2 linked regions of the Homo sapiens genome follow. The protein of the gene in region 1 purifies or fractionates together with the protein of each later gene. This does not show direct contact. Each region holds a gene or a part of one and is shown in the gene's direction. Other genes may lie near its edges.

The links.
Region 2: the proteins of CNOT4 (region 1) and MICALL1 fractionate together in Homo sapiens (co-fractionation; one large-scale study listed by BioGRID). This does not show direct contact.

What each region holds. Positions count from the first base shown.
Region 1 is NC_000007.14:135,507,030-135,511,540, reverse strand, and holds the start of CNOT4 (CCR4-NOT transcription complex subunit 4), read left to right. Parts: upstream 1-1,438; 5' UTR 1,439-1,652; intron 1,653-2,383; exon of another isoform or gene 2,384-2,470; intron 2,471-4,511. UniProt on the Homo sapiens protein: Has E3 ubiquitin ligase activity, promoting ubiquitination and degradation of target proteins. Involved in activation of the JAK/STAT pathway. Catalyzes ubiquitination of methylated RBM15.
Region 2 is NC_000022.11:37,923,172-37,926,977, forward strand, and holds part of MICALL1 (MICAL-like protein 1), read left to right. Parts: intron 1-1,488; coding exon 1,489-1,546; intron 1,547-2,489; coding exon 2,490-2,872; intron 2,873-3,009; coding exon of another isoform or gene 3,010-3,026; exon of another isoform or gene 3,027-3,768; intron 3,769-3,784; coding exon of another isoform or gene 3,785-3,806. UniProt on the Homo sapiens protein: Lipid-binding protein with higher affinity for phosphatidic acid, a lipid enriched in recycling endosome membranes. On endosome membranes, acts as a downstream effector of Rab proteins recruiting cytosolic proteins to regulate membrane tubulation.

The sequences.
Region 1 (4,511 bases):
TGGTGAAACCCTGTCTCTACTAAAAATATAAAAATTAGCCTGGCGTGGTGGCACGTGCCTGTAATCCCAGCTACTCGGGAGGCTGAGGCAGGAGAATCACTTGAATCCGGCAGGCGGAGGTCGCAGTGAGCCGAGATCGCGCCACTGCACTCCAGCCTGGGTGACAGAGCTAGACTCCGTCTCAAAAAAAAAAAAAAAGAAAAAACAATGAATTGAGGGCTTATTATGAAATTAAGTTCGTAAATTTAAAACTGCAACCTCTTTCCCTACTCCCCTTCCCTGCTTTAAGTTTTTAAAATCGGTTATGACATACTATGCATTTTAATCACGTATTTTTAAAATAATGCCTCTTCTCTCCTCTTCCTCATCCCAACACATCACTAGAATAGGGACAGGGAATTTTTTCTATTTTGCTCACCATTGTATTCTCAATATATAGAAGAGTACCCGGCAGCTAGGAGGAGCTCATTGAGTATTTGCTGTATGAGTGGGTGAAGAATACATGCAATAAGCAAAAGTTACTGCTTCGAGCGCCACTTCCACCAGAGTTCTGGGATGCAAACGGGGCGACCAGTACATTGACTGACTTTTGTGACTGATGATTCCTCAGTGCTCGTAGGGATTGTGGCTGCATTTATTGTTCTTGGGGATGTGCCGATGTGTGTAGTTTGTAAACTTGCACACAGCTGTGCTGGCTGGACACCGAACTAACACTAATTTGCACCGAGGTCCGCAAATTCTCAAATTCACACCAACAGAAGCACGTTATTGTAAGTGCACGGGTGTTCCGTTCTCTTGGGTAATCTGCACAGAACAATTTAGTGTATGTCTTCACTGGTGATTTTACAGTGAAGAAGGGATCAAGGGTGGTGGCCCCAAATGCGCAAGGACAGGGAAATGAATTAAACAGGCGCCTGTTTCCTCCTTGTTCGCAAACAGACGCCAAGTCTGTATCAAATTCTCACCCTGGATCAAATCCCGCGCTCTTCGTACCCACAACCTGCCTCCACCTCCACCCCGCCCCCTTTAGATATCCCTGGTGGGCGGGGCAGAGAATAAACATTCCGGGCTCCCCGAAAAACTGTTTAGCCTCGCCCCAGTCTTGGGGTAGCACATTTCCGCAAACACCGAGGACACGGAATCACTAGTGAAAACCGCCGACCAAATGACATTGAAGCAGCACACGCGTGCAGAGAAGGAAGCAAAACACGAAGAAAGGCATCAGTCCAGCAGCCACGTGAGGTGGGCGATCCCCTCCGCCCTCTGAGAGAGGACTTCAACTCCCGGCGTGCCCCTGGGAGGTTACCCTCCGAGGACTTCAACTCCCAGGGTGCTGCGGGAGCGGCCACCGCAACCTCCCACTCAGCCGCCCGCCGCTCCTCCCGCCCCTCCCCCGCCCCTCCTGGCCGGATCAGCGTGCGCCTGCGCACGGGAGGCCGGAGGAGTCTTACCCTAATGTAAGATGGTGGCCCGTCTGGCTGTGGAACCCACCGAAAGCTGAGAGTCTCTCTCTCAGCCGTAAAGGTCGGACTCGCTGAAGCAATCAGGCCCGGTTCTGAAGAGTTTTTTCCCCGACGCTCGTTCGGTGGTTTCTTGTGAGGACGCGGCAGCCCGTGGAGTCGGCTGAGGGAAAAGCGAGGCAAGGCAGGCGGGTGAGTCTATGCGGGGCTGGGCTTAGGGGAAACCCGGGGCTGACCGGCTACGAGAGAGCGGAGGCTTCGCTGGGACTGTACAGGCCGCACCCCCCTTTCTCCCCACCCCCCGCCTCATCTTCACCCTCCTCCTCCTTGGTCTTCTTCCTCCTCCTCCTCTTCCTCCCTCTCCCCTTTACGCCACAGCAGTTACCATAAGGAAAAGGGAGCGGGTCAGAAGGCAGCGCGGCGGCAAGCAGCGACTCTCCTTCGAGAATTTCTTTAATTGGGGAGCCGAGGCGGCTTTTGGTCTCCAGCTTTTCCCCCTGCATTTTCACCGGGGCAGGATTCTTAGGTCTCAGCCCTCCTTGTTTCCCCAATCCCCTGTTCCCTGTCTGACGTCCTTTCCCTCTGGCCCCCGTCTCCCAAGACCAAAGCCATCACTTCCACTCTGATCCGTGTTGGCTGCTGCTGCTCATTAATCCCACTGCTCATTGCCCACTCGTCCTGCTGCTTGTTTTTTTGCTCCACTGCTACCACTCTGGAGTTAGCCTTTGCCCCCCTCTGGTGCTTGCAATCAGCCCACAGTGTATCTGCCACACTAGAGCTGCTTCCGATTTGCAGTCTTTCCTTCCACCACATCTGTCATCTTAAAGCTGCCCCTTAAGTATCTAGATTATGCTCCTCCTGCTAACCCACCTGTTTCTCAGCCTTCTTGAGAATTGTCCGTTCCTTCCCTCTTTCCTGTACAGATCCTTTCAATATACACTTCCAGAAAAAGGGAAGCCCCGTGGTGGCCCTTGAAAAGTAAAAGGAAGTTGGGAAGTGAATGAAGTGAGGTAGGATACTATTAAACGTTATGAGTGAAGATCTTTTATTCAGGCTACTCCGGAGAGGACCGTTTTCGTTTTGCTTTCTGTGATCTATTTGTCGCTTATTCGCTCTGTTGTGTTAGGACTTGGCTTTTTTTCTTTTTTTTCGTTTTGGACCGGTTTTATCATGCTACTAAGCGTTCTTTGGATTGCCTCTCCCCAGGACACTTAGTGTGGGCCCTGATTTATACCAATAAATATTAACCCCAGCATTACAAAATAAGATAAATCTGGCGCACATACAGAATTCATCTGTGAACTCCGCTAGCAAATATAAGTGATATTTTGATTACATGTGGGTTATGTGTGGGTTCTGTATTGAGGCTTGATTTTTGACTGAGTTTTATTGATGTTCAGCTTAATTGATGACATTTTATTTATGATTTGAGTGGAAATTTCCTCTCCAGTTAATATCAGATTTTCTTCTTATTTTTGGATTTGGGAAGTTCTCTTGACATTTCTAGGATGATAGTTATCAGAATAAATTGTCTTGTCTTGAAAATCCATTAGTTATGTATGCAAAAGAAAAATCGACATTTTTATATAAACCTAAGTTCCTCGTATTTTTCTCATAGAAAAGAAGGGGGCTGGGAAAAGAATGACAAAGCTGTGCACATACATGCATTTGGTGGAACTCACTGTCATTGTTATCTACAGTAAAAAGCAGAAAACTGGAAGCAAGAGGTGGCTTATGATGTCCATGTTTTGGTGAAAGCAAAATTAAGATGTACTGACTAATGGTAAAATGGGAAGAAGCAGCCCTGGCTATAATCAGACCACTGTGAGATAAAGAATTACCAGAAAAGCAACCAAGATTACATAGTTCAAATACATACATCCCAAGTTTAAACATGACTTACATGACATTGTATTCTTAAGATATATGTAAAAATGTTTAAAATCAGTGACAGTCTCATGTGGCAGTCCATTACTGGGTTATTGTAATTTTTACAAATTTTACCTGTAAAATTTGGAATCTTAACATTTGGCATTATGTTCACTTGATTGTGATAAATGGTCTGTTTTACCAAATGTAAACTAAGGTTAGAAAAGCTGTTTATAAAACTTTTTTCTTTCAGCCACTTAAGCCCCAATTTGGGGGACCAAATAAATACCTACTCTTAGAACTGCAAGCAATTTATATAGCAAACTTTGTGCTAAGTTACAAGTTGAGTTTTGGGTTTTTTTTAATCACTTACATTTAGTTTATCAGTAGGAGTGTATTTAATAGTTGATCTTTAACTCTAAAAAATATACTTTTTGTTGTAATACACTGGTGGAGAAGCTTTCCACTTTTAAAAATCCTAACACAGGTTTAGAAACTCTTGGCAGTCATACTTGGCTGAATTGTAAGCAGTGAGTTCTAGGAGAGGATTGTTTGTCTGGTAGAAGGGAGTAAGTGATTTTAATACATCTTTTTTTTTAAAAAAAGGTATTTGTCTCACGAAATATTTTCTCAAGTAATTCTTTCCCCTCCATAATTTTTGCCCGCAGTTACTGAATTCTTCATTTCAGCCCTCTGAAGTCAAAAGGAATTTACTTTTGTATCTTTAGTACGTTTAAAGAAGATATCTAAAGTTCTTTAACATTTTGATAGGAAATAGGGAGCTGAGATTTCTAAATAGTTTTGCTTGGTTTTAGTTTTTTGATCTAACGTTATGAACACTGAAGCTTCATATTTTCATGGTTTCTTTTGATAATTTGGAATACTTTCTGCCAGGTTGAGTAGTTGAATTCTTGAGATCAATAGATTATTTCTGTAAGAAGGTTTTGAACATGAATCGCTTAAAGTTGGCCTATTATAAAATTAGGATGAGACAGTTATAATCAAATGACAAAGTGCAGAAAAATAAAATTGTTTTTGTAATGCCCTTCAACTTGAGTCTAAATGGGAGTACTAGCGATAACTTGCAACTCATTTGTTAAAGAAAGGGTGTTGCCAGTGGATGAACTCCTAGCTTTAGGGGAGTCTTATTTTAAAAATGATTTTGTGTGCTTTAAAGGAATG
Region 2 (3,806 bases), on another chromosome or scaffold:
CTGCCCACCTCAGCCTCTCAAAGTGCTGGGAGTACAGGCATGAGCCACTGTGCCGGGCTCTTTTTATTTTTTTTGAGACGGAATCTCACTCTGTCATCCAGGTGGAGTGCAATGGCACAATCTCGGCTCACTGCAATCTCTGCCTTCCAGGTTCAAGCGATTCTCCTGCCTCAGCCTTCCAAGTAGCTGGGACTACAGGTGCACACCACTATGTCTGGCTAATTTTTGTATTTTTGGGTAGAGATGGGTTTTCACCATGTTGGCCAGGCTGGTCTCGAACTCCTGACTTCAGGTGATCTGCCCGCCTTGGCCTCACAAAGTGCTGGGATTAAGGCCTGAGCCACCATGCCTGGCCTGTTTCTGAGGATATTAATTCCTGCCCCAAATGCCGAGTTCCTGCAGCCTCTGCCGTGCTCTGTTCTCCATGCTGGGACGGTGCAAACAATACAGACCCAGGCCCCGCCCTTACACTGCCTCCCTCTGCATGCGCTCTTTTGCATCTGTTCTTGTGGGCTTTAGTTTCAGGGTGTGTAGTAAGTGCCACTCTGCATGTGCCCGTGTGTCCCCGAGCTCTCTGGGACTCTGCACATTGGTGTCCTTCCTGTGTGTCCTGGCCCATCCACAGGCACACTGCAGGTGACCTCCATGCCCAGCCTCTATGCTTGTCTATGTCTAGAAGGGGAGAGCTCAGGGGCTTGGGGGAGAGCAGAGGGGTCAGGTGGGCCCCGGAGCCAGTGTGAGCTGCAGTGGAGACCCCTGGCCCATTCTGTGGGTGCATTCTCCCCCAACCCCACATTGTAGAATGCTCCCAGATGACCTCCCTGGGTTTCCGTGAGCTTGTAGGATTGAGACTCCTTGTATAAGGCTGCTGGGCAGCCCTTATCATTCCATTAGGGAAGGCATTGGTGGCCACGGGGAGAGAGACTCCCAGGGTCACCCTGCGACTTGCACCAGAACATTCTATTTGTTCAGCTCTTGTGGAGGCTGGATCTGAGCTGACCGCTGGGGACACAGATTACTGTTCAGGCCTATCTGTGCCTTCAGGGTGCTCCCAGTGTTGAGGTGGAGACAGGCACAGATGCAAGGGTTTCAGTGGATTGTGGAAGTCTTGCTAAGTTGGAAGGAGGGGAGCAGGGGCTGCTGTGGGATTCACAGAGGACACTTGGGAGTCCAGGACTTCCAGGAGGAGGTGGCTCCCAGGCTGACTTGAGATGATGTTTTCTGCCCACACTGGCGGGGGGTGTCTGAGGGGATTTGGGTTTCTTCTCAAATGAAATGCAAACGGGGTCTCAGGTGGCCTGGCCTTGACCCCTGACTGTTCTCAGGCACCTGGGTGCTTATCTAATCTCCATGGGCTGGCCTGGGGAGGTGCGAGGGTGCCAGGAGGAAGGCGGGGCGCTCCTGGGGAGGCAGGTGCTGTGGCTGGCTCCCTGGGTGCCCACCTCCTGCTGCCCATGAAGGCCTGGCTCACTCTCCTTTCCCATCTAGGGAGACTGCACGAACTGCCTGTCCCCAAGCCGAGGGGGACACCGAAGCCGTCCGAGGGGTATGTCGATCCCTGAGGGGCTTTCCTGCTTTGGAGGTCCTGGTGGTGGGAATCAGGGTACTCTGGGGCCGGGTAGGGAGAGAGGCTTCCTGTGGATGGGCAGGGCGGGGCTCAGGAGGGGAAGGAGAGCTGGGCCCACACCCCTTCTCCTGAGGCTCACCCCGGGATTCCTGCGGCCAGTGCCTGGCCCCCTCCCCAGGTCCCTGCTCCTGTGGGCAGTGCCCGGTGCAGGCAGCCACCTCTGGTACCCGTTGCCTCTCCAGGCTCCTTTGCCCTGTAACATGGGAGGCCGAGGCTTGATTATAGAGTTGATTTGAGGCTTAGCAGCAGAGTATAGAAAGACCTGGAAAAGCTCAGCTGTAGTACCAGTCCCTCAGGTCCTGCAGCACGGGACCCTGCTTCACGTGGAGGACATCTACTTCAGCTGTTATTTGAGGGCCATGCTTCCCCCATGTGGTCGGTCTGTAGGGAGCCAGGTGGGCCATGGCTGTGCCAGTTGTTAACGTTTACTGAGTCCCTGGCACTGAGCAGGTGCCCCAGTGCCCCGCCCAGTGCTGCACTCCATAGCTCACTGCATCCTTACACCAACCCTGTGAGGCAAGGATTATTAAGGTCCCCATTGAGTGGAAAGGGAGACTAATACAGAGGGAGGGCAGGTGACTTTCCCAGGGTACATGGATTGTAGGTGGCAGAGCCCCTGGTCGATCCTTTCCTGGGCTGGGTTAACAGCAGCTCTGTGACTTGAAGGTTCACATTCTCTGGGCCTCAAAGGCTGTGACTGTAACATTCCATTTCAGACTGTCCCCATGGGGATGGGGGTGGGAGAAGGGAAACAGCCGTTTCTCATCCACCCCCTTTGAAGTAGAGTCAAAACTGTCTAGAGAGAGAAGGAAGCTGACCCTTGCCTCTGCTAATGGTTTCTGCTGCTTCCCCCCTCCTCCAGGACACCAGCCCCCAGGAAGGACCCCCCATGGATCACGCTGGTGCAGGCAGAACCAAAGAAGAAGCCAGCCCCACTTCCCCCAAGCAGCAGCCCGGGGCCACCAAGCCAGGACAGCAGGCAGGTGGAGAATGGAGGCACCGAGGAGGTGGCCCAGCCGAGCCCAACGGCCAGCCTGGAGTCCAAACCCTATAACCCCTTTGAGGAGGAGGAGGAGGACAAGGAGGAAGAGGCTCCAGCTGCACCCAGCCTGGCCACCAGCCCTGCCCTGGGCCACCCGGAGTCCACACCCAAGTCCCTGCACCCCTGGTACGGCATCACCCCTACCAGCAGCCCCAAGACAAAGAAGCGCCCTGCCCCGCGCGCACCCAGCGCGTCCCCACTGGGTGAGTGCCTTTCCTGGAGCTCTCCTGACAGTCGGAACTCGGGGGTGGGGCCCGGGCCTGGGGAGGGGGTGTGGTGGGGCAGAGCCTACCAGGCCAGGCACCACGTGTTTCATGGGTGACTTCTCATTTAATCCTAGAGCAAACCTGTGAGTAGGTATCGTCACCTCCACTTTGCAGGTGAGGAGACTGAGGCACAGAGAGGCTAAGTAGTTTGCCTAAAGCCTCTCAGTGCTTAAGCAGGAGAGGCAGGATTTGAACCCACGGAGTCTGGCCCGAGTCCATCTCTTCACCCTCCCTGTCGTGCTCGTTAAACGTGCTGTCTAGTGGTGTGCTCAGTGCAGCGAGGGGCTCATGGAAAGGAGGCGTTTGCTTGAATCCTGCCTAACTCTGTCACTGTCGCTGCAGTTCCTGAGCGACCTGGGCTCTCACCTGGCCATGTGTGACCAGGTGTAATGACTCTGACTGTCCCTGAGTCTGTCTGTAGTCCTCCATGTGACATGGTGGCTCAGCTCCAGGCTGCTGGGCCTCCTCCGCCCAGTGCTTCCCCCCTCACCCAGGAACGCTGGAGTTTTTGGCCCTCACCTTCTCCCAGTCTTCTGATACCCTGAGCTGGGTTTTTGGCCCTAACCTTCACCATGGCTGGGTCTGGCCGCCTCTGAGAGTTCCATGGGACCCCCTCTCACAGTGGGGCAAGAGCATGCCAGAGCTGGCAGAGGCAGGTGCTCAGGGGGTCTGAGCGGAGCCCTGGGACCCCAGCTGAGGCTGGCCTGTCTGGGTGGAAGTGGTGGGCAGCTTCAGGGGACAGCAGAGGAGCATGAGCTCTGGAGTCAGATACAGTGGATTCAGTCCCACCCCGTGCTGGGGCGAGTGCCCTCTCCTCTCTAAGCCTGTTGCCTCATCTGGAAAATGCAGATAATGTGTTTGGAAGCATCAT